2 separate regions of the Homo sapiens genome follow, and region 1 is linked to region 2. The links come from fine-mapping of genetic effects on plasma protein levels. A gene starts in region 2. The other region holds a variant in brackets. All regions are shown on one strand. Distances are between the middles of the regions.

The links. PIP is the chance, under the fine-mapping model, that this variant and not a neighbour inherited with it causes the effect. The UK Biobank Pharma Proteomics Project read protein levels with antibody pairs (Olink). The fine-mapping took linkage between variants from a reference panel, not from the people measured, so its PIPs are less certain.
Region 1: its variant is fine-mapped to the plasma level of the SPINK4 protein (UK Biobank, PIP above 0.99).

Annotation. Positions count from the first base shown.
Region 1 is chr9:33,222,415-33,234,615 of GRCh38, forward strand. No RefSeq gene overlaps it. Among named protein-coding and RNA genes, the nearest start is that of SPINK4, 12 kb to the right of the region's middle. RefSeq lists enhancers at 4,682-4,851, 10,989-12,188. The variant G/C (reference allele first, on the strand shown) is at 7,069.
Region 2 is chr9:33,235,714-33,246,265 of GRCh38, forward strand. SPINK4 (serine peptidase inhibitor Kazal type 4) reads left to right here and starts at 4,454. Exons shown (of 4, transcript NM_014471.3): 1 at 4,454-4,556; 2 at 9,399-9,439. The coding sequence starts at 4,496.

The DNA of each region.
Region 1 (12,201 bases), 12 kb before region 2:
AATATGTACATATATATTTTGAGATGGAGTGTCACTGTGTCACCCAGGCTGTAGTACAGTGGCACAATCTCAGCTCACTGCAACCTCCGCCTCCCAGGTTCAAGCAATTCTTCTGCCTCAGCCTCCTGAGTAGCTGGGACTACAGGCACGCACCACCATGCCTGGCTAATTTTTTTGTATTTTTAGTAGAGACGGGATTTCCCCATGTTGGCCAGGCTGGAAGGTTGTTAATATTTAAGACATTTCCTAAACCGTGTTCCCTGGGACACCAATTCTGACACCAATTCAGAGGGATGTTAACAGATATTTGTTAAATGTGGTGGGGGAAGTGGGAAGCTTTTGTAATCACTTAATCCAAGAAATGCTGGATGAAAAATAGACTCCTGAAAAGCTTCTCACAGCCTTTAATAAACTAGTGGTCAGTGCCAGTGTCCCAGAGAGAGATCCAGTGAGCAGCATTTCGCTCACTTCGTTGACCATAGAGAATACCTCTTGAGAAGCACCTTGCGGGGCTAGGATGCCGAGGAACAGAGGTGAGGGGCACAGTGAGCACTCTAGTGTTCACTCGAGTCTTGGAGATAATTAAGTTACAAAGGTCTAGAGAATTAATAGACACTTGATGAGGGGAGAGGGATGTCAGAACTGAAAAGCAGAGGAGGATGTTTCTTTCACAGACTGAGTCGTCCCACTTTGGAGTTTTGTTTTGTTTTGTTTTGGGGGTTTTTTGTTTGTTTGTTTTTGAGATTTTGTTTTGTTTGGGGGGTGGTGGTTGTTCGTTTGTTTGTTTTTAAGATGGAGTCTCGCTCTGTCACCCAGGCTGGAGTGCAATGACACGATCTCGGCTCACTGCAACCTCCGCCTCCCGGGTTCAAGCAATTCTCCTGCCTCAGCCTCCCAAGTAGCCCGCCACCACGCCCGGCTAATTTGTGTTTTTAGTAGAGACGGGGTTTCACCGTGTTGGCCAGGCTGGTCTCAAACTCTCAACCTCTGGTGATCTGCCTGCCTCGGCTTCCCAAAGTGCTGGGATTACAGGTATGAGCCACCACGCCCCACTTCTTTGGAGTTCTTATCACACTGCTGTGGGGCTCTCTCTGCTCTTCTGGGTTCCTCTGGGAGGGGAGCACAGGAGAAATTCTGACTCTGTCTTCCTCCTCTGACCTCTGCAGTGGCTGAGAGGGGGAGGTTAGGAAACCTAGAGAGAAGCGAACATGGAAGCCTGTTGATGCTCAGTCTGCTAAAAGACAAAGGACTCCAGAAAGTATCTGGAGATAAAGTGTCTCCAGGAGGAGCTTTATTCCAGCTAGAAAGCAGGGGAGGATGTTTTTTTAAAGGGCCATGTAATACAAGTCTATAGCCGAGATTGGGATTGAAATGAACTGATTAAAAGAAAGGAAACATCTAGAAAAAGACCCCAGTGAATCCCAGACTTCATTTATCTTAAAACAGTCATTCTCAGCTGGAGTGAATTTTGGTCTCCCATTGGACATTTGACAAGGTCTGGGGACATTTTTGGTTGTCACAACTGAAAAGAGGTGCTACTGGCATCTAGTGGGTAGTAGCCAGAGATGCTGCCAAACCTCCTACAAGGCACAGGGCAGCCCCTTACAACAAAGAATTATTAGGTCCCAAATGTCAGTAGTGTCACCATTGAGAAACTTTGCCTTAAAAGTTGTTTTTAAATATCAGCTTTAATTTACAATTTACAATGGTGCACAAATTCAGTTGCTATACCACAAAAAAATTGAGAGAAATTTATTCAGTATAAAAAAATCCAGATTAACAATTTGGTCACCTCCTTTGAGAATGAAAAAAAAAAAAAAAAGGACATCCAAATCTTAGTCAGCAATACTATTTTGTAAATTTAAAACACATCTCAAACAACACTTGCTATTTTGCAAAGAGAGAAGTAAAAGGATTCACAGCAAATATTCCCTTTAATTTAAAAGTTTAGGACATTGCTTAAATATACTTAATAACTTTTAGCATGAAGATTTTGAAGGAAATTTTTTATGATGCATCTTTTTATTTGTAAAAATTGTAAAAATTTATGGGGTACATGTGAAATCTCGTTACATATATATATAATGCATAGTGATCAAGTCAAGGTATTTAGGCTGTCCATCACCCAAGTACAGTACATTTTTGTTTAACTATAGTCACCCTACTCTGCTATCAAGCAATGAATGTATTCCTTCTATCTAACTGTTTGTACACTTTAACCCACTTCTCTTCATCCTTCCCCATCTCTTCCATTCATTCTTCTCAGTCTCTGTTCTCCGTATTTCCTCTCTTTACCTCAATGTAATCACATTTTTTTTGGCTCCCACATATGTGAGAACATGCTACGTTTGTCTTTTTGGGACTGGCTTATTTCACCCAAGATAATGACCAATTCTGGAGGAAATGTATTAAGTAGAAGGGGATAAAATGCTACAAATAAATAAATATTATGAGTAGGGATGGGGAGGATCCCACTACTGGCTATATAATTAAAGAGATTCTCACACAACTCCATAAAGAGACATGTAAGAGGATTTTTTTTTTTTTTTGAGACAAAGTTTCGCTCTTGTTGCCCAGGCTGAAGTGCAATGGTGCGATCTCGGCTCACCGCAACCTCCACCTCGTGGGTTCAAGCGATTCTCCTGCCTCAACCTCCCAAGTAGCTGAGATTATAGGTATGCACCACCATGCCCGGCTAATTTTGTGTTTTTAGTAGAGACAGGGTTTCTCCATGTTGGTCAGGCTGGTCTCGAACTCCCGACCTCAGGTGATTCACCCGCCTCGGCCTTCCAAAGTCTGGGGGGGGTGGATTATAGGCGTGAACTACTGTGCCTGGCCATAAGAGGATATTTTATCACCAAGTTATTTGTGATGGCTGGAGAGCTGGATGCAATGAGGCATTCATCATTGGGGAAATGAATGTAAGTAAAATGTGACATAAGCACACTACAGAATATTCTACCACAGTAACAAGCAATGAATTAGATACACACAAAAGGTCAAGAAATCTTTAAAACATGGTTCTGTCCAGTTGCAGTGGCTCAAGCCTGTAATCCCAACACTTTGGGAGGCTGAGACAGAAGGGTTGCTTGAGCCCAGGAGTATGAAACCAGCCTGAGCAAGATGGTGAGACCCTGTCTCTACAAAAAACAAATAAACAAGAGCAAAAAACGCCAAAACTCCACAATGCTGAATGGGGGAAAAAAGAAGAAAGGAACAGAAGGAGGCCTCCAGCACAATATTATTTTTTGAAATGAAAAATACCCACAAAACAATGCCACATGCTTTTGAGAACACTTGCAAATAGAATGATTTATGAGTCTTAGTCACTGCATAAACTTTACAGTTGAACTCTTGGAAATTACGCATCAGTGCCACCTGGTGGTAGCACTTCAAATTTGTGGCATAATTCAGTTTTGTTTTTAACAAGATAACATTTACATACAATGAAATGCACAGATCTTCATTTGATGATTTTTCGACAACTGTATACCCCAGTGTAATCCCTACTCTAAATAATATATACGGTATTTCCACTGCCCCAGAAGGTTCCCTCCTACTCTCCCCATGCCCTACCCTGAAAGCAACAACTGATCCGCCTCTGTCACCACAATTAGCTTCCCCTGTTGTAGAACTTACATATGTGGAATTATACAGAATTATACAGTGCATACTCTTTTGTGTTTGCCTTCTTTCAGGAATCATAATGTTTTAGCGATTCAGTCATGTTGTAGCACGTATCAATAGTTAATTCACTTTTATTGCCAGGTGGTATTCTATTGCATAGCTGTATTCCAGTTGGTCTATCTGTGCACCAACTGACTGACATTTGGATCATTTCCACTTATTGCCTAATACAAATAAAGCTTCTATGAATATTTACGAATAAGGCTTTGTGTAGACATATGCTTTTTATTTACTGTGGATGGAATTGCAAGGTCATAGCATGGATAGATGTGTAATTTTTTTAATTGCGAAAAACAATTCTCCAAATAAGTTGTATCATTTTACACATCCACCAACAATGTATTTGTATCAGCAATAAAAAGATGAACAACCCAGCTTATCTAAATAGGCAAAAAGTCGTGAATCAACATTCGGAGATATATAAGTAGCTATATAGTACAGGAAAAAGTGCCCACCATTATTAGTTTTCAGGAAAATGCAAGCTAAAACCACAATGAGATATCACTTTACACTCACTAGAATGTTAAAATGTTGAGAATGTGGAGAAATTGGAGGCAATTGGAAATCACACACACACACACACACACACACACACACACACACACCCCAGCTCTCTCAGGTCACCAGCTCAATTCCTTCACAAAAGAAGGATTCAGCTTGTGACTTGCACATTTCTGCATAGGCTACTGTTGGTCAAGCCTGGAAAGTTAAAAAGGCGGAAAGACAAATCTGCTGCTGTGCATTGGTGGCGTGGAGCCACAGGAGTGCCAGAGGCGTATACTGGGGCAGGCTCTTATACCTGTTTTTTACTGCAGTTCTTCATTCAGTAGGGAAAGCTTTCATAGGGGTCTATTAGTAGAGGTTGGCCCTGACCCTTCTAAGGAGAATAAGAGTGTCCTGAAGTCAAAATGAATGAAAGCCAGGTGAAGAGATGGGCAGGTTTCCATGGGCCCCGCATTGCCTGGAGCTGCCCAGAACATGGGGCTGGCTGTAGCTTCACCACCCAACTTCTCTCTTCCCTCTTCCTCTTTCTGTTTCTCCTCACCTCTCTCTTCCTCCTTTTCATAACGGCATCATGTATTAAGTTTTGTTATGAGCCAGGCGTTTAATTTTTTTTTTTTTGGAGACAGAGTCTTACTCTGTCACCGAGGCTAGAGCGCGGTGACGCAATCTCAGCTCACTGCAACCTCCCCTTCCGGAGTTCAAGCGATTCTCCTGCCTCAGCCTCCTGAGTAGCTGGGATTACAGGCACCCGCCACCATGCCAGGCTAATGTTTTTTTGTATTTTTAGTAGAGACGAGGTTTCACCATGTTGGCTAGGCTGGTTTCGAACTCCTGACCTCAAGTGATATGCCCGCCTTGGCCTCCCAAAGTGCTAAGATTACAGGTGTGAGCCACCGCACCCAGCCCTAATATATACTTTTTAATACAACACTTCAAGGTAGGCGTTATTATTGTTGTTGTTGTCATTTTTGAGACAGGGTCTCACTCTGTAGGCCAGGCAGAAGTGCAGTGGTGCTAACTGCAGCCTCCACCTCCAGGCTCAATCGATCCTCCCACCTCAGCCACCCAAATACCTGGGACTAGAGGCGTGTGCTACCATGCCTGGCTAATTTTACAATTTTTTGTCAAGACGAGATCTCGCTATATTGCCCAGGCTGATCACAAACTCCTGGGATCGAGCAATCCTCTCACTTCAGCCTCCCAAAAATGCTGGGATTATAGGCATGAGCCACGGCACCCTCACCCCATGAGGGAATGTGGGCTCTCCGGTTAAGGAATTTGCTTGAGGTCACAGAACTTGTGGATTCACACCCCATGGCTGCAGTCACAAATTACCACAAACGCAGAGGCTTCAAACAACATCAATGCATTCTGTTCCACTCGGGGGTCAGAGTCAGAAATGGGGCACAGGCTTGCTCTCCCTCTGGGGGCCCTACGGGAGAAAACGTCCCTTGCCCTTGCCAGCTTCTTAAGGCTGCCTCTAACCCTGGGATCCAGGCCTGCATCACCCCCCACTCTGCTTTCATCATCACAGCTCCTTCTTTGACTCTCCCTCCTCCCTCTTATGAGAACTTTATGGCCCAAGCTCACCCAGGTAACCCAGGATAACCTCCCCATTTCAGGATCCTTCCTTTGATCACAGATGCAGAATCCCTTTTGTCATGTGAGGTAACATATTCACAGGTTTGGGGGATAAGGAGGTAGGTATTTGGGGGGATGGGAGCATCGGTCTGCCTATCACAGTGAGTGAGTGGCCAAATGAGGGTTCAAACCCGGTTCTGTCGTATTCCTGAATCTGGGATCTTTCTCCAAACCACACTGCCCCTTCCTTCAGTCCTTCCTGTCCTTGGAGCTGTCCTGGGTTCCCAGCAAGCACAGATTCTCAGAAAGGGACAGCAGAAGACCCTAAGGCTGGACATATCAGGATATCACATATCCTGGTGAGAGTCCAAAGACTTCTTTTCAAATCTGGGAGGGAAGAGGAGAGACGGCAGGAGACTCCATGCCCATACCCCATTCACCATAAAGGGAGGGGGAGGTTGGCCTTGAGGGCCAGACAGGAGAGGTTCTGCAAAGGGAGCAGTGTACCCTCTGAACAATGCCGAGGACAGCACAGGTACTATGTGAATGTTGGTGAGGAGGGTGCAGGTTGCTGGGGTCGGTGGTGGGATGAGTAGCAGTATTTTGGACCCCGTGTCTAAATTCAGCCTGGTCATAGATACTGCCAGTGGCTGTGTCTGGGAAGATGCCAAGCTGGGGTCACATGGGTCCTGCCTGCTGAACCTATAAGTGCCGTGGGGCATGTGTGGCAGCTCCTCCCACCTTCTGCCTGGACCCCCTGGAATGACTGCCTTTTGGAGAGGGTCTATATTCAGGGACCTCTAGACCTTAGCTGGGCCCAGATGCAAGGAGGTTCCACCTGTGGTCCACACTCGACTATTTTGGCAACTTCCTGCCAAGGCTGGACCACAGAATTTTCCACGAAACTCACTTCAAATTGTGCGGCTCTTTCAGCTCCTGCTATTTCAGTTACTGGGCCAGGATGGGCTTCTGGGTGTATGTATTTAAAACCAGAATCTATGGTGGGCAGAGGAATCTGGTAAGAGTCTGAGATTTAAAATCAGATATTGTTTTGAATGCCGGCTCTGCCACTTACAATGCTGGAAACTTCGAACTTGTCATTTAATCTTTCTGAGCCTTAATTTTCTCGTCTGTAAAATAGATAGAATTATAAGGCCAGGTTAAGAGGCTAAGAGGGGGAACTCCTTGTGCGGATCTAAGGACCCCTCCTCGAGGCTGGGAAGAAAGAGGTGGGCAGGAGACCCTGGGCAGGGGACCATGCCCAGATCACACCCACCACAGGGAGAGGGCAGCAGA[G/C]ATCTTCGGGCAGCTTGAGGGTCAGGTGGAGACAATCACCAGGGAGGGGCAGACAAGCCCTGAGGCCTCACCTGTCAACGCACTGACTCACCTCAAATATTTACTGGGCGCCTTTGAGCATGAGAACTAGACCTCTCCCTTGCCTGCCTTGGACCAGTGCCCATGGGCATGTTGAAAGCACCTGCCTGGAAGAGAGTCTGCCTTAAGAGGGTGGGTACCAACCAGGGCCACCTTGGATATGGAAAAGAAACATCATGAAAAGGAAAGAATTTCCAGGGCTCCTGGAACCGACTGAAGACTTTAGCCTTTTGGGCTCTGAGGCTGTGCCATTTGCCAGGCTCCAAAATCGCTAATCATTTTATCCTGTTCCTTTGGCAACAATAGGGTACATGTGACCTCAGCCCGGCCCATCACAGATGCCCAATTTCCAGGCCACATTGATTGGTTCAAGAGATGAGCACATGACTTACCCAACCCAATCAGAGTCTCCTCTTGGGTTTTTATACACTGAAGGAGGCTGTGGGGAGAGGAGAAAAGTCCCTTCTGTTCCTTTAGTTCACAAAGTTGGGAAAAGCGGTCTGCAGCCATACCTCCCCATCCCTAATAGCAAACAGTAAGCCTGTCTATAAGTGGGAGAGCATGATGACAGCCCCCCCAAAGAAAAGTATGAGAGTGGGAGATTGTGAACAAAACTCTGGTTCTCCCCAGCACACCCCAGGATCCTTTGGGCAGGTTGCATGGCCTCTGAACTTTGCTGCTGGATACCTTACCTGCCCCCACTCCAGTTAAGTGCACACTACAGGGCCCATGGAATCTAAGGGGAATGGCACCCCCTGGAGATGAACAGAACACATTCCACACAACCACATGAAGTAGCCCTGATTACAGGTGAGCAACTGAGGCTCAGAGGTGCAATGACACACCCAAGGTCACACAGACAAGGTGTCCAGACTCCAGAGCCCAGGTTCTGATGGCATGGCTGCCTCCTGGCCCACCCCTGGCACAGCCCAGAAGGGAGGCAGCACTCAGGACTCCAACATGAGTCTGGGAGCTGTTACTCTGGACAACGGCACCCCTGTGTCCAGGAGCCATCAGGAGGCCCTTGTTGGGCCAGCTTTATGAAGCCCTGGGCTCTTGTGAGCGAATTCATCGTACAAGTGAAAGATCAGCATGTGGCCATGGTGAAACCCTGTCTCTACTTAAAATACAAAAATTAGCTGGGTGTGGTGGTGCGCGTCTATAATCCCAGCTACTCGGGAGGCTGAGGTGGGAGAATCCCTTGAACCCGGGAGGCGGAGGTTGCAGTGAGCTGAGATCGTGCCACTGCACTCCAGCCTGTGCAACAGAGCAAAACTCTGTCTCAAAACAAAACAAAACAAAGTAAGCATGTGGGGAAGGTTTAGTAACATCTGTGGCTTTTGTCTGACCAGCAACATTCCTCCTTTCGGTAATAGAATCCCAGGTTTTCTTTGGAGACCTACTTACCTTCATTGGATACAAATAAGGGACTGTCCATAAAAATGCCTTCCCTTCCCTGGTCAGAAAGTAGACATGGGCTGGGCACAGTGCTCACATCTATAATGCCAGCACTTTGGGAGGATCACTTGAGCCCAGGAGCTCGAGAACAGCCTGGGCGACATAAGAAGACCCTGTCTCTACAAAATAAAAATAAAAAATTAGCTGGGCATGGTGATGCATACCTGTGGTTCCAGCTACTTGGGAGGCTGAGGAGAGAAGATCGCTTAAGCCAGGAAGGTCAAGGCTGCAGTGAGCCGTGATCTCACCACTGCACTCCAGCCTGGGCAACAGAGCAAGACCTTGTCTCTAAAACAAAAACCAAAAAAACGGAATGTGGACACATAACTCTAGGTTTTTTGAGCCCAGTTCTTTTGGGGCATAGTTTTTTCAGCTTGTCACCTAGTTTTTTGTGCAGCTGTGGTAGCAGGCACTGTCAGTGTCCCACCCACACTGTTTACCACTCCCCATTCTTGTGCATACCTGCGGCCTCCCTGTGCAACCCTTGCAATCCTTTGCCCGGAGGCTTTCTCTAGGAGCCCAGAGACATGAAAGGAGCTAGCCGATAGTGCCAGGGAGTTAATGGTCTCTCTTCCAGCAGCCCTCAATCAGCGACTGTTGGGAGTTGCTGGATATATACCCCAATTCCTTCACCTCTCAGTGGGGATAACTCTGCCATGTGTGCCACACAGTGTCCCAGCCATCCCTGGTTGGATTGAGGCCCAGTTTCCCCAGTGGTAACCTCAGCGATGCATACATTATTAGTTCCCTTCCCTGCCTTCCTTATTCCCACTCTCCTGCAGGTGTTTCGTGGGATTGCCTCCCAGAAAATGATTTGGAATCTAATGTGCTTTTCTCATGGTCTGCCCCTGAGTCCAACCTAAGACAATACCACATCCTTCTGGAAAATTATTATTCTGCTGAGGTTTGCCAAAATCTACTTCTGTTGCTTGCAACCCAAGGACCCTATCAAAATTCATAGTGGTCTGGAGTTGTGACATGTTGCACCAGGCTGTGATAATCTGATTTTTCTGAAGGCCATCAGAGCTCTGGAACGGAAGGGGGTATCAAGAGACTTTGTTCTAAGCTCTTTTGTATGTATGCTCAGAGGACTTGAGCCACTGGTTATGTCCATGAATGGAAATGTTTGGATGGCACAAGGTCCCAGAACACCAGGTCTCTTGAGCAGCCCCACTCCTCGATGGGTCTGTATGATAATCCCTTATGGTTGGAGGTGATCAAGCCAAGAGTCCATGCACCAGGAGAGAAGATAGGCACTGAAACTGTTTCCTGTGAGTTCAGCAGATGGTCTTGGGGTAGCTTATGGAGACAAAGCACCACACTCAGGTCTTAGAGGAGATACTAAGTTCTTAGGTCCCCAGCCAGGTTGGCTAAGAGCTAGTAGAAAATGTGGTCCTTGAAATAGAGTGCCACCTCTGTTCCCACCTATATGGACACAGCATAGGATGTCACTGGCTGGACCCAGTGGACCCACTAGAGTCCAGCTTGTCCTCAGAGCTTCCTCAAGCCCTCAGTCCAGCAGACCAAGCATCTGAAGCTGGCATCCTTACTGTCCTGAGACTTCATCCAGTGCAGGATGGATTCAAATAGTCAACACACACATGCCAGGCCCTGGGCAGAGCACTGGGGATATGAAGTGACTTAAATGTCCCCCTGTTCCTCTCTTTAAGGAAATATGAGAGATAGTCACATAGGCAAGATAAGGTCATGAAACATTACAGCTGCTGCTGGGATAGATGTCTGTGCAAACATGGTCCCCAAACTGGAGTGGGCTGAGGGTCTGAGAGGAGAGCCCAAGGGGAGGTAATAGAGGGGCACGCCAATCAGGAAGAACAGCATAAGAAAAGGCTTGGAGGCGTAAAAGCCTGCAGGTGGTTCTATCGGATGGGGTGAAGGCTCAAGTGGCCAGAGGTGAAGTTAGAGAGGCCAACAGAGGACCAGTCGTGGCGGAACTTTTATGTCATACAAACCAAGGAGCTTGGTTTTCATGCTTGAGTCATTGTGATTGAGTAACTTTAGTTGAATTGACTATCTGTAATTGAATAATATTAGGCAGAGGGATGATGTGGTCATTTTTGCATTCAGAAAGATGGCTCTGGAAGCAGAATGGATTGGAGGAGGTGAGACTGGAGGCAGGGAAACAGCATGAGTAATGAAGGTGAGAGATCGCAGAGGCTGAACTAGGGGAAATATAGAGGAGGTGATGGATATGAGAGGTGGTGAGGAGGTGAAATCAGTAAGACCTGGTTCCTGGAATGTAGAGGTGAAGGAGAAGCTCAGGATGGTCCCCAGATTAGCCTAAGGCAGTGGGGTGATGGTGGTGCTGTCCACCCAGGTGGGGGAACTGGGAGGTAGGGCAGCTCTGGGTGGACAGAAGATGGAAAGTTGACTTTTGGACATATTGAGAAGGGGGTCCATAGGATAATGGGGTGGAAGGAATATCTCTATTTCTATCACAGCTCTCACCACAGCATTTTATAGATTCCTGCTCAAGAGTCCATTCCACCTCTCCACCACTGGTGAACTGCAAGCTCCTTGAGTCCAAGTCTCACTCATCTCTGGAGTCCCAGGGACTGGCATAGTGATTGGTGCCCCACAACAGGTGCTCAATAAGTGTCCATTGAATGGTAGAGTGGATGCCCCCATGGAGGGATGACTTCAGCTCATTTCATCACTGAGCATTCCTTGGAGTCAAATCCCAAAAAAGTAGATGAAACCTCTCCTTAAAGTAGTGTCCTCCCATTGCCTGCCCCCTACAGCTCTGGACCAAGTGGAATGGGCAGGTGGGCTCTAGACCTGGGACATAGAGTTGGGTGGCTGAGGGGCCCAGGACAGGCTGTGGAGCTGGCTCAGTCCAGACCAGGTCTCCCTGGAGGGGATGCCCACACCTGGGTAGCTCACACAGGTTTCCAGGCAGGTGGGGGCACTTTGGGCTGGAGGAAGGGTGGAGCAGGATGTGAGCTGGAGGCCAGGGAAGGTGGTCCCAGGGCAAACTGGCCATGCTGGCCATGCCATCTGGCAGACCCAAGCTCTGCTGGAGCTCAGCTCCCCCACCTTAAGCTAAACAAGGCCTCTGTCCCCACCACCCATCAGCAGAACCCATGACTCAGACCTGATGGATCCAGCATTGCCGTCATCAAGGAGTGGCTGTTTACCTCAAGGAGCTGGGCACCAGGCCAATCTAAGCAGATGGCATGAAGGCTGCTGGGTGAGGCTGGGGAGTGTTGGCCCAGCCAAGGCACAGGACCCAGGTTTTCACTCTGACCTGGGGCAGAAGATGCAGGAATTGCCCAGCTTTCCTGCCTGAGCCCTGTTTTAGGTCATCTGTGTCCTGATTGTATTGATTCCAGGACCTGTGCAGGTGCCCAGGGCATTTAGGTCTTGGCCTCTCCTCTGCCTCCAGGAATCCCCACTTAAACCCTTTCCTTGGTATCACAGCAGCTACACACATCTCATCTCACATTCTCCTCTCCAGGGCCCTCACAGGTGCCCTGGGAGTCAGGCTGCTGGTGGTACAAATTGGTGAACCCAACATGGGAGATGGAAGAACATGTGCAGGCCCAAAGAGGGGAAGGGATGCACCTAAGCTCACCTAAG
Region 2 (10,552 bases):
CAGGACTGGGCACCAGGGCAATAGAGATAATTGAAACATTGTCCTTTTTCCCAGACAGCTTGCAGCTTAGTCAGCAGATGGATAAGCAAGGGCCACCAAAGTGCAGGGGGAAGACACGGATGGAGGAGACAGAAGGCACAATGCGAGTGGGGCATTCAGGGTGGGTGACAACAGTCATGACCTTGTTGGTGAAAGGCAGTTAGGAAGGTTTCAGAAGAGGGAATGTTTAAGCTAGGTTTCACAGGATGGGAGTAGGGGGATAGAGAAGGGAGACCCAGCATTGCCAGCAGACAGAATAAATTGTGCAAGGGGTTCAGTTGAACTGAAGAAGTGCAGGTCCAGGGTGGGGCAAGGTGAAGGTGAAGCTGGAAAGATGGGTTGGGATCAGATGTTGAAGGGGTGTGGTCACCAGGCTAAGGAGTTTGGGCTTCTTCCTGTTGGCAGTGGACGCCATTACAGTGTTTTGGGCAAGATGACCTGGTCAGCTTTGCTCTTTAGGACGCTTGTCCGGGACGCTGCGTGCAGAGTGATTTGGAGTGGCAGGTGGAGAGCCAGGGATATGAGACAGGACACCATTGAGGTGGCCAGGTTGGAGACAACAGTGGCCAGGACTAGGGTAGAGTGGGGGGTGTGGAGGGGCAGGGATGGATTCAAGAGCTATGTAGGAAGCAGAACCTAGACCCTCCATGGGAAGGCAAACAAGGCTGAGGGGTCAGTGCCTGGGATTCCACTGCCGGAGGTTGCTGGGATGTGGGTCAGGGGAGCAGAGATCAAGGCTTATTTAGCCCCCACTGACCATTCCAGACTCCTGTCATGGCCCTCCCCGGCTCCCTGGCCCCACTTTGCCCACATGGCTTCTCTGTTCTTCAGATGTGAGAAGCTTCTTCTTGCCTCAGGGCTCTCACACATTCTGTTTCCTCTACCTGCAGCACTGTTCCACTTGGCTACAGCCTGCCCTGCCCACTCAGCCCTTGGCGTCTCTGATCTCAGATGGATAGGTCACTCTTGGATCCTCTCACAGAACAGAGCATGTGTGGTTCATGGGACTCACTCCAGCAGTGATGATACAATGCTGCTGCCCGTTCAGTACTGTGCCTCTACTTAACCAAAGCTCCTGGAGGACAGGAACTGTATCTGACTCACTCTCTGCCATATCCAAGCACTCAGCATGGAGCATGGCACTTAGCCGCTTGTTAAACTTTTACTGAATACATGAATGGTGAATTAATGGTGAGGTTTTCTTGGATGCACTGACATCCTTAATGGGCTGTTCAATAGCAGTCGGATATAGGAGCTAGGTTCACACTTTGATGGGATGACAGATTACGAAGTTTGTTACTATGAGTGAATCTAGAAGGTATTTGTCTGAAGAGGAGACCTTGGGGTGGGCTGGGATGGTAAGTGAGCTCAGTACTCCACAGGCTGCCCTTGACTTTACTCTGTACTTTGAAGGATGCAAAATTCAAGCGTCCTGGCTCCTTGCAGCAACTAGAATGTTCAGTAGCCATTTCTGCCACGTGGATAGAAATCTAAGGTCCAAAACAAGGAAGGGATCAAATCCCTTTGCTCCCCTCTGTCCCTTCCTCACTGTAACCTGGGACACTGACAGACAGACCTGTCAGTGATCAGATGAGAAATGGAGAGAGGCCCAGGAGCTTCACATGTGCAAGGGTAGGAGGCAGGCAGATGGCAGACCTGCTCAGCCTAAAGGTGCTTGTGCAAGTACAGGAGGTTCATGCAAGTACAGGAGGCCAGAGACAAAGCTATAAGCCCCAAGGACTCTCAGGGAGGCAGACCTCTTGTGTGAGGAAGGACTGTCTTTGTTCGAAGCCATCCAACAACGAAACTGGTAGGTAGTGAGCTCCCCATCACCATGAATGACCTCCCAGTGGGGCTGCTGTAGGAAAGCCCTAGTGGAAGAAGGGAGATGAAACCCAGATGACCATTATTTTTTATTTTATTATTTTATTTATTTATGTATCTATTTATTTATTTTGAGACCGTCTGGCTCCATCACCCAGGCTGGAGTGCAGTGGCGCAATCTCGGCTCACTTCAACCTCCGCCTCCCTAGTTCAAGTAATTCTCCTCCCTCAGCCTCCCAAGTAACTGAGATTACAGGCACACGCCACCACACCCAGCTAATTTGTGTGTGTGTGTGTGTGTGTGTGTGTGTGTGTGTGTATTTTTAGTAGAGATGGGGTTTCACCATGTCAGCCAGCCTGGTCTCGAACTCCTGACCTCAGGTGATCCATGCAGCTTGGCCTCCCAAAGTGCTAGGATTACAGGCGTGAGCCACCACACCAAGCCTATTTTTATTTATTTATTTATTTATTTATTTATTTAGGCAGTTTCTCGCTCTGTCACCAGGCTGGAATGCAGTGGCACAACCTTGGCTCACTGCACCCTCCACCTCCCAGGTTCAAGCAATTCTCCTGCCTCAGCCTCCTGAGTAGCTGGGATTACAGGTATGCGCCACCACGCCTGGCTAATTTTTTGTATTTTTGGTAGAGATGGGTGTCACCATGTTGACCAGGGCTGGTCTCGAACTCCTGACCTCAAGTGAATGCACCCGCCTCAGCCTCCTCCCAAAGTGCTGGGATTACAGGTGTGAGCCATGGTGCCTGGCCCCAAGATGACCTTTAAAGTCCAATTCCCCTTTTATAAGATGGCGTTTTTGCTTTAGGACAGGAAGTCATCATTAAATATTTTCTCTACCTGCCTAAGCAATGGAAAGATAGCTGCCACCTGCCTCAGAGGCATCCCTGGGACTGTGCAGTTTCCTAAGGAGGAACGGAAGGATCTTGAAGCTGAGTCAAGGATCACTGGGGGCCTCAAGCTAGTCTTGGCCACAGGTCTGGGGCTTCTATGGGTCTGTAGAGGTGACTGGATGGCTGGTGTCCCCAAAGGGACTGTTCTTTTTTTAATTAAAAAAAAAATTTTTTTTTAGAGTTGGGGTCTTGCTATATTGCCCAGGCTGGTCTCTAATTTCTGGGCTCAAGCAATCCTCCTGCCTCAGCCTCCCAAGTGTTAGGATTACAGGCATGAGCCACCGCACCTGGCTGGGGCTGTCCTCAAACAAGAATCCTTCGCCTTGTCATTGGAATATTCTTGCAACTTATCTGCAGGCTTGAAATCTTTCGAAATAAAGTTTTTCTTTAAAAAAAAAAAACACAGATTCTGATTTAAATATTTCAGAGCGAAGCTCAGCATCTGTATTTGTAAATTCTCCCCCAGGGAAATCCAATCTGCAGACAGAGCTGAAAAACACTGATCTAAATGAATTAGAGAAACGTGTATGTAAATAAAATGTATTTTATATATCAGAAATTCTTTGAGAGCAAATATCCAAATGACTTATTAATGTATACTATGTAAGTATGGGGGAGTTTTAGAAACTGATTTTTCTTTAAAAGAATCTTGTCTTTATTTAACCTATGAAGATACAGATGAGGCCGCGTGCAGTGACTCATGCCTATAATCCCAGCACTTTGGGAGGCCGAGGCAGGCAGATCACGAGGTCAGGAGTTCGAGATCAGCCTGGCCAACATAGTGAAACCCCGTCTCTACTAAAAATACAAAAAGTTAGCTGGGCAGGTGGCAGGTGCCTGTAATCCTAGCTACTCAGGAGGCTGAGGCAGGAGAATCGCTTGAACCCAGGAGGCAGGGGTTGCAGCCAGCCGAGATCGCGCCAGGCACACCAGCCCGGGCAACAGTGTGAGACTCTGTCTCAAAAAAAAAAAAAGCAAATGAACACATAATACCTGCAAAGCAAGAAGGCATCTTCCTTTTAATGTTTTATTTTGCCTTTGTTTTGCCTGTTAGTTGTGCCCACTTTGCGGTACAAAAAAATAAGTGAAATAAAAGTAAGTAAAAATGATCATTTCTGCTTACGTTTACAGCTCATTTCATATTCTGCAAAATGTTTTCCCGTCTGCTATCACCGCCGCCATCCTCACAGCAGCCTGGGAGAAAGGCAGAGCCAAAAGTCTCATCTCCACTTCGTGCATGGGTGATCTGAGGCCCAGTTAAGAAAAGTGGCTCTACCGAGGTCCCAGAGTTGGTTGCTGGAGGCACTGGCAAAGGAATCCAGGCTCCAGCCCCCTTCTCTGCCTCCTGCCATCTTCCAGTTGCTTTTTTCCTTTCTCTCTTTCTCTATCTCTTTCCCCTTCTCTCTGCCTTGAACTCTCTCTCTTTCTACTTCAACTTTCCTCTCCTTGCTCCAACCCTCAGATTGGAGTCAGCTTTGCAAGTTGTCCAAACTTTTTGTCACTCTGGAAACCTGCCAGCCCCATGGCCACAGCCCCATCTCATCAAAAGCTCAGCATCTGCACCTAGAGCAAGCCCTTTCCGGATGTCAGCGTGCAAAGATTAACTCTGGTCTCTCCATCTGGCCCTAGATAAGATAAGATTAGGAGAGCGGCACTATAAATAGGCCCCCATCCTTCCTCAGGCGCAGGCCCCAGCCAGCTCAGGCTACACTATCCCAGGATCAGCATGGCCGTCCGCCAGTGGGTAATCGCCCTGGCCTTGGCTGCCCTCCTTGTTGTGGACAGGGGTGAGTGGGCAGAACCTGGATTCTCTGTGGCTTTGTGTTGGTAGGTGAGCTTGGGGTGAGAGCAGAAGCAGGGCCTGGAGCACCCTGTGAGGCCTCAGCTTTTTCCATGTACCTTCATTCTGCATATGCACCCTCCACTGTGCTGGGGAAAGTTCTGGGCTGGGAGAAAAGAAACTTGGGTTCAAATCCTGACTGGCGCAGAATTACCAAAGTCCCCTACCCTCTTGGGGCCTCAGTTTCTCCAGCTGTAAAAGAGGGCATTGTTCCAGTTCAAAGCTGCACTGAGCAACTATTGGGCTGGAGGCTGTGGGGACAGAAGGGAGCAGGTAGGTCCCAGCTCTCAGGAGAGACTGACAAGTATGCTGGGTGCAGGGTGGTGGATGCTAAGAGAGACCTGGCCGAGGTCTTCTGAGCTCCCGATCTCTCTGAAAGGCTGTGGTTTGGGACTTGGGCAGCCATGTGAGCACGACAGAGCCCTTTCCCAGGACTGGACACATATACTTGGGGCAGGGCCCTCTCAGGATCTGGGCCATCCCTGCAATCTCACAGCTACCATGTCAGGCACTGTTCTGAGCCCTTAAGACAGATTAGTGACCCAAACAGAAAAAGCACGGTCCTGATGGAGCATAAATCCAATGGGGTAGAGGAAAAGGGGAAAGGCAATAAACAAGATGGTTACAATGTATGTTAAACGGTATGTTAGAAGCTGATAAAAGTTAAGGAAAAAATACTTGGCAGGGTGATGGGCACTGGAAGGGGGTTGCAATTTCAAATCAGGGGAGGTATCTCTGAGAGTCCGATGTTTGAGCAAAGCTTGAAGGAGATGAGGGACTAAGCCATGTGGATATCTGGGAGAAGATTCCAGGCAGAGGGAACAGCTCAGGTGCAAAGGACCTGAGGCAGGGGCATGCCTGGAGTGACTGAGGTACTGTAAGACCAGTGTGGCAGGAGGGGACATTGTACGGAGTGATAGGAGAGGAGATGAGAGAGGCAAATTGGAACTGTACCGGGAAAGACCTTGTTGGCCAACATAAGAACTTGGCTTTTCCTCTGACTAAAATGGGAGGCACTGAAAGCTTTGAGCAGAGAGTTATGTCTTTCAAGGGTTGCTCTGGTTGGTACATTGAGAATAAACTGAACAGGGAAGCGGGGAGACCAGTTAGGACCCGCCTGGACAAAAGCCATAAGTTATAAGGCAACGCCTGGCAGGATCCAGGGCCACTGACCTCATGGCCAGTCCCACACCCATTTCCCCAGCTGGAAACAGACCTGGGCACAGGGGGAAAGGGAAACGGGTCTGGGGACCTGTTCAGGAGCAGCCTGCTTACGCCCAGCCTGGCACCTACACCTACCTACTCCTTGAGCAGTTGGGAACACTGAAAAGCCTGCTCTGAAGAAGTTTGGTTTTTGTTTGTTTGTTTTTGTTTTTGTTTTTTGCACATTTCAGACTACTGCCTGGGCTGAGTGAGGAGGGGGCATTTTGGGTCAAGGTCAAGGGCAGCCTGGGGGTAAATGTAGCTTTTCCCCACATCCCCCAGAAAGAAACTCTGACATCTTAGAGTTCTGAACACCCCCTCCTCCCAATACACTTTAATTTTTTTTTTTATTTAAACAAAAATTTTTTTTTCAAGACAGAGTCTTGCTTTGTTGCCCAGGCTGGAGTGCAGTGGCACGATCTTGGCTCACTGCAACCTCTGCCTCCTAGGTTGAAGCAATTATCCTGCCTCAGCCTCCTGAGTAGCTGGGATTACAGGCACATGCCACCACACCCAACTAATTTTTGTATTTTTAGTAGAGACGGAGTTTCACCATGTTGGCCAGGCTGGTCTCGAACTTCCAACCCCAAGATTTGCCCGCCTCGGCTTCCCAAGGTGCTGGGATTACACCAATGCACTTTAGTATTCAATTCCTGAACACCCACAGTGTAGGACATTGAACCAAGTGCTGCGCAAAGGCAGACATAAAGGAACCCCAAGGAGCTCAGGTGCATAGGGAGGCGGGGTGACCCAGTGAGTGGGACAGTACATGGTGGTGTGAAAGAAGCCTCCATCCAGATCTGCTCAGGAAACTGTTGGGGACGTCAAGGACAGCTTCACTGGGGGGCAGCATCAAGCCTTGAAAGGAGGGTATGATTCGGCGGGAGGAGAACGGAGACGAAGACATTTCAGGGAGGGGACATGGCATGAGCCAAAGCAGGGCCCAATCTAGGACCCGTGAGCAGAGAGGAATAGCTGGGGCATGGAGAGGTGTACTGGGAAGTCAGCCCAAGAAGCAAGTTTAGGGTCAGCTTACGCAGTACCCTAAACATAAGACTAAGCAGCTCAGGTCCATAGGGAGGCTTAGTGATCAGGACAGGGAACCACGGAAGGGCTTTATATTTTTTAAATGCTTTTCTTTTCCCTAACAGTTAAATATCAAGAAATGCACAAATCTTATCACTCGATGAATCTTGACAATGTATACACTCGTGTAACCCAAACCCCCATCAAGATACAGGACCTCTTGAGACAAGGACTTAGGGAAGAAAAATAAATACAGAACATTTCCATAGCCCCAGAAATTCCCCTATGTCAGTCAATCCCTGCCCCCATCCCAGTGCTCTGACACTTTTTTTTTTTTTTTAAGAGACAAAGTCTCACTCTGTTGCCCAGGCTGGAGTGCAGTGGTGCAATCATAGCTCACTGCAGCTTCAACCTCCTGGATTCAAACGATCCTCCTATCTCAGCCTCACAAGTAGCTGGGACTACAGGTGCGTGCCACCACACTCAGCTAATTTAAAAATTTTTTTAAATTTATTTTTATTTATTTATTTATTTATTTTTGAGACGGAGTTTTGCTCTGTCACCCAGGTTGGAGTCCAGTGGCACAATCTTGGCTCACTGCAATCTCTGCCTACTGGGTTCAAGTGATTCTCCTGCCACAGCCTCCTAAATAGCTGGGATTATAGGTGTGCACCACCACGCCCAGCAAATTTTGTATTTTTAGTAGATATGGGGTTTCACCATGTTGGTCAGGCTGGTCTCGAACTCCTGACTTCAGGTGATCCACCTGCCTCAGCTTCCCAAAGCGCTGGGATTACAGGTGTGTGCTACTGCAACCTGCCCTCATTGTTAAATTTTTTGTAGAGATGAGGTCTTGCTATGTTGCCCAGGCTGGTCTCAAACTCCTGGCTTCAAGTGATCCTCCTGCCCCAGCTTCCCAATGTGATTTTTTTCCATCATAGATTAGTTGGCCTGTTCTAGGATTTCACATAAATGGAATCATAGGGTATATAATCTTTTGTGTGTGGTTTCTTATGCTCAGCAAACTATTTTTGAGATTCAGCCACGTTATTGCATGTATCAGTTGCTTGTTTTAATTGTTCAGTAGTGCCCCATTGTATTTATTTATCCATTCTCCTGTTGAAGGACATTTGGATCACTTTCAGTTTGGGCAATTTGACATGGAAGGGTTTTAAGCAGTTCAGTGACAGGTCTAGGTTTGCATTTTGATACCCCAATGCCAGGCTTAAACAGCACATTGGGGTGACTTAGTCTAAGTTTCTGTTTCCCTCTCTCTGTGGAAATACCCTGTAATAGCATCTCCAGGAAAATATAAAACTACATTGCCTTGCACACCTCCAGTGATGGGAAACTCACTACTTCTGGAGAAAGCCTCTTTCACTGTGGCATAGCTCCCACTGAGAGAAAATTCTGCTTCATATGGAACCCAAACCTGCTTCCCTGCAGCCTCCTCACAGAGATGGGCTCTGCTTTGTGAGGTTGAAAAGAGTCCATCTCTCCCTCAGCCCCAGGATAGCCCTTCAGAGACTTCAGGGAGCATCCTGCCCTTCTCTAATTTACATAAACGCCCTTCCTTCCACCTGTGCCATTAGACATAGCTCCAGTTCCCTCATCCACCCATCATGCTTGTCAGTCACATCACAGTTTGCTCATGTCCTTTAAGCAGTTCAGCCAGACCTTGAGGGGTACACCAGTGTATGTAGAAAGAGTCAGGCTCTGGACTGCAACAGACGTGTGGGAAAATCCTACCTCTGCCTTAACAAACTGCATTGCGTCACCTCTTTGAGCCTCTTTCGTAGTTCGTTAAACTGACCTATGCCCCAGGAAACAGATTCTGAGCTATACATGCAATTTACTGGGGAGCGTTCATGGGAGTAACATCCATGAAGGATGAGGGAAGTTGACTTCCATGCAGCACAACAGAGGCTTCAGATGATCCTACAGGCAGCTTTGGGCGAGGGGATCAGGCCCTTTGTAACCACATCAACCCGACATGGGATATGGGCTGTTCCTGGGTAGTGGATGCAGCCCTGGGCAAGGCAGCTTCATTCTCTGAGGGTAATTCCTAGGAAGAGACTTGCAGTGAGTGGTCAATATTTCTGGCAGCAGGGGAAATGAGTGCCTCAGACTTGCGCGAGGGCTCTTGATGGCAGAACACAGCATCCACTACTATCTCCTTTCTTCCCTCTGTTACACAGCAGTAAGATAGGGGTGGAGAGGAGTTAAAATCATGTGTTCTCAATGCCCGGCACATAATAACTGCTGAATTGCTATTTTATAATTATTATATGGGACACAACAATTCCAGTGGGATCTAACTAACAAGGAATAGGCTGGACTGTCACCTTCCTAATTTTTGAATTTCTGTCTCTGTTTATGGAACCCAAGATCACATCAGCTTTCTGGCAGCCCCATTGTCTGGTGGCTCATCACCTTTCCTTGAGGAATTCCAGGTTGGGTAGTTGCTGGACCAAGCTCCCTGAAGCAGAAGCAGTCCTCAGACCCCTAGACCTGGGGTCTAGAGCCGGCATAATCTAATTCTTGCTTCTTTGTGTTTCAGAAGTGCCAGTGGCAGCAGGAAAGCTCCCTTTCTCAAGAATGGTAAGGCAGCTGCGTGTTGTTCTCACCTTCTCTCTGCTGAGAGGAGTCCTCTCGTCCATGCTGAGAAACCAGTTATTCTTCTCCACGATCCTGCTCAGACACCTTCAATGGCTCCAAGGTGGCCAAGGTGGCCTCCTGGCCTGCACATTCCCCACATTAGCCCCCAAGGCTGAGTAGGCCCAGCCCCCTCACCCAAGTCCCAAGATTGGCCTCAAAGCCCTTATGATGTCCCCCACCTGGTGTCCAAGGCCCCTTCCATCAGTGAGATCTCCCCACCCAGGCTTAGCAGGACAGGGTGTGCTCTCTGCTCTGTATAGTGCAGACAGGCAGGCCACAGAGTTCAGGCCAAAGAGGGGACCCTGGCACACTGAAAGCACCTGTGGAGTGTGCCAGCCTCCCACCACCACATTCCATCTGATTGTCTAAACACCAAGTTGTCCCCGAATCCTGATTCCACCTTGGCCCTTGGCCTAATGCCCCCAGTGACCCAGAAGGCAGTGGTACTGGCATCCTTGAGACTCTTGAGATTGCCCCTTCATGTAGTGGAATGAGGAGGCTCGGAGCCACCTTCCCATCCACAGCCTCAGCATCGTCCCCGTCAGTCCATCAGAATCCAGCCCCGCTTATTCAGTGCCAAAGAGCCAAATAGTTTACATACATTATTTCAATTAGCCCTATGTGAGAGAAACGCCACTATTATAATTTTTACAGATGAGGAAACTGAGACTCAGAGAGTGGAAATACCTCAATTAAGGTTATACAGCTAATCAGTGGCAAAATTCAGGTTTCTAGGGTTCGGGCCTTCACGGTTGCACCGCACAACCTTTCTCAGCCTATCCCTGTCTCAGGCACTAATGCCAGTCCTGACTGAGTTCTCACCTTGACCTCAGGCCTGTCCTAAAACCCTTTCAGACAGCCTCAATTAAGCCCCAAGCTCTGCCCCATTTCTTCAGCCTTCGCACACTTTGCAGCCTTTCTGACATGGGCCTGATAGATCATGCAGGCCAGGGAGAGTTCAGGAGCCCCCAGGGAGAGAGGGGCCTCCTGGGAATGATGGGTGGTTCCGTATCCTGGGGTCTTCAATGGGACCAGCAGAAGTTCTGATTAGTGCCT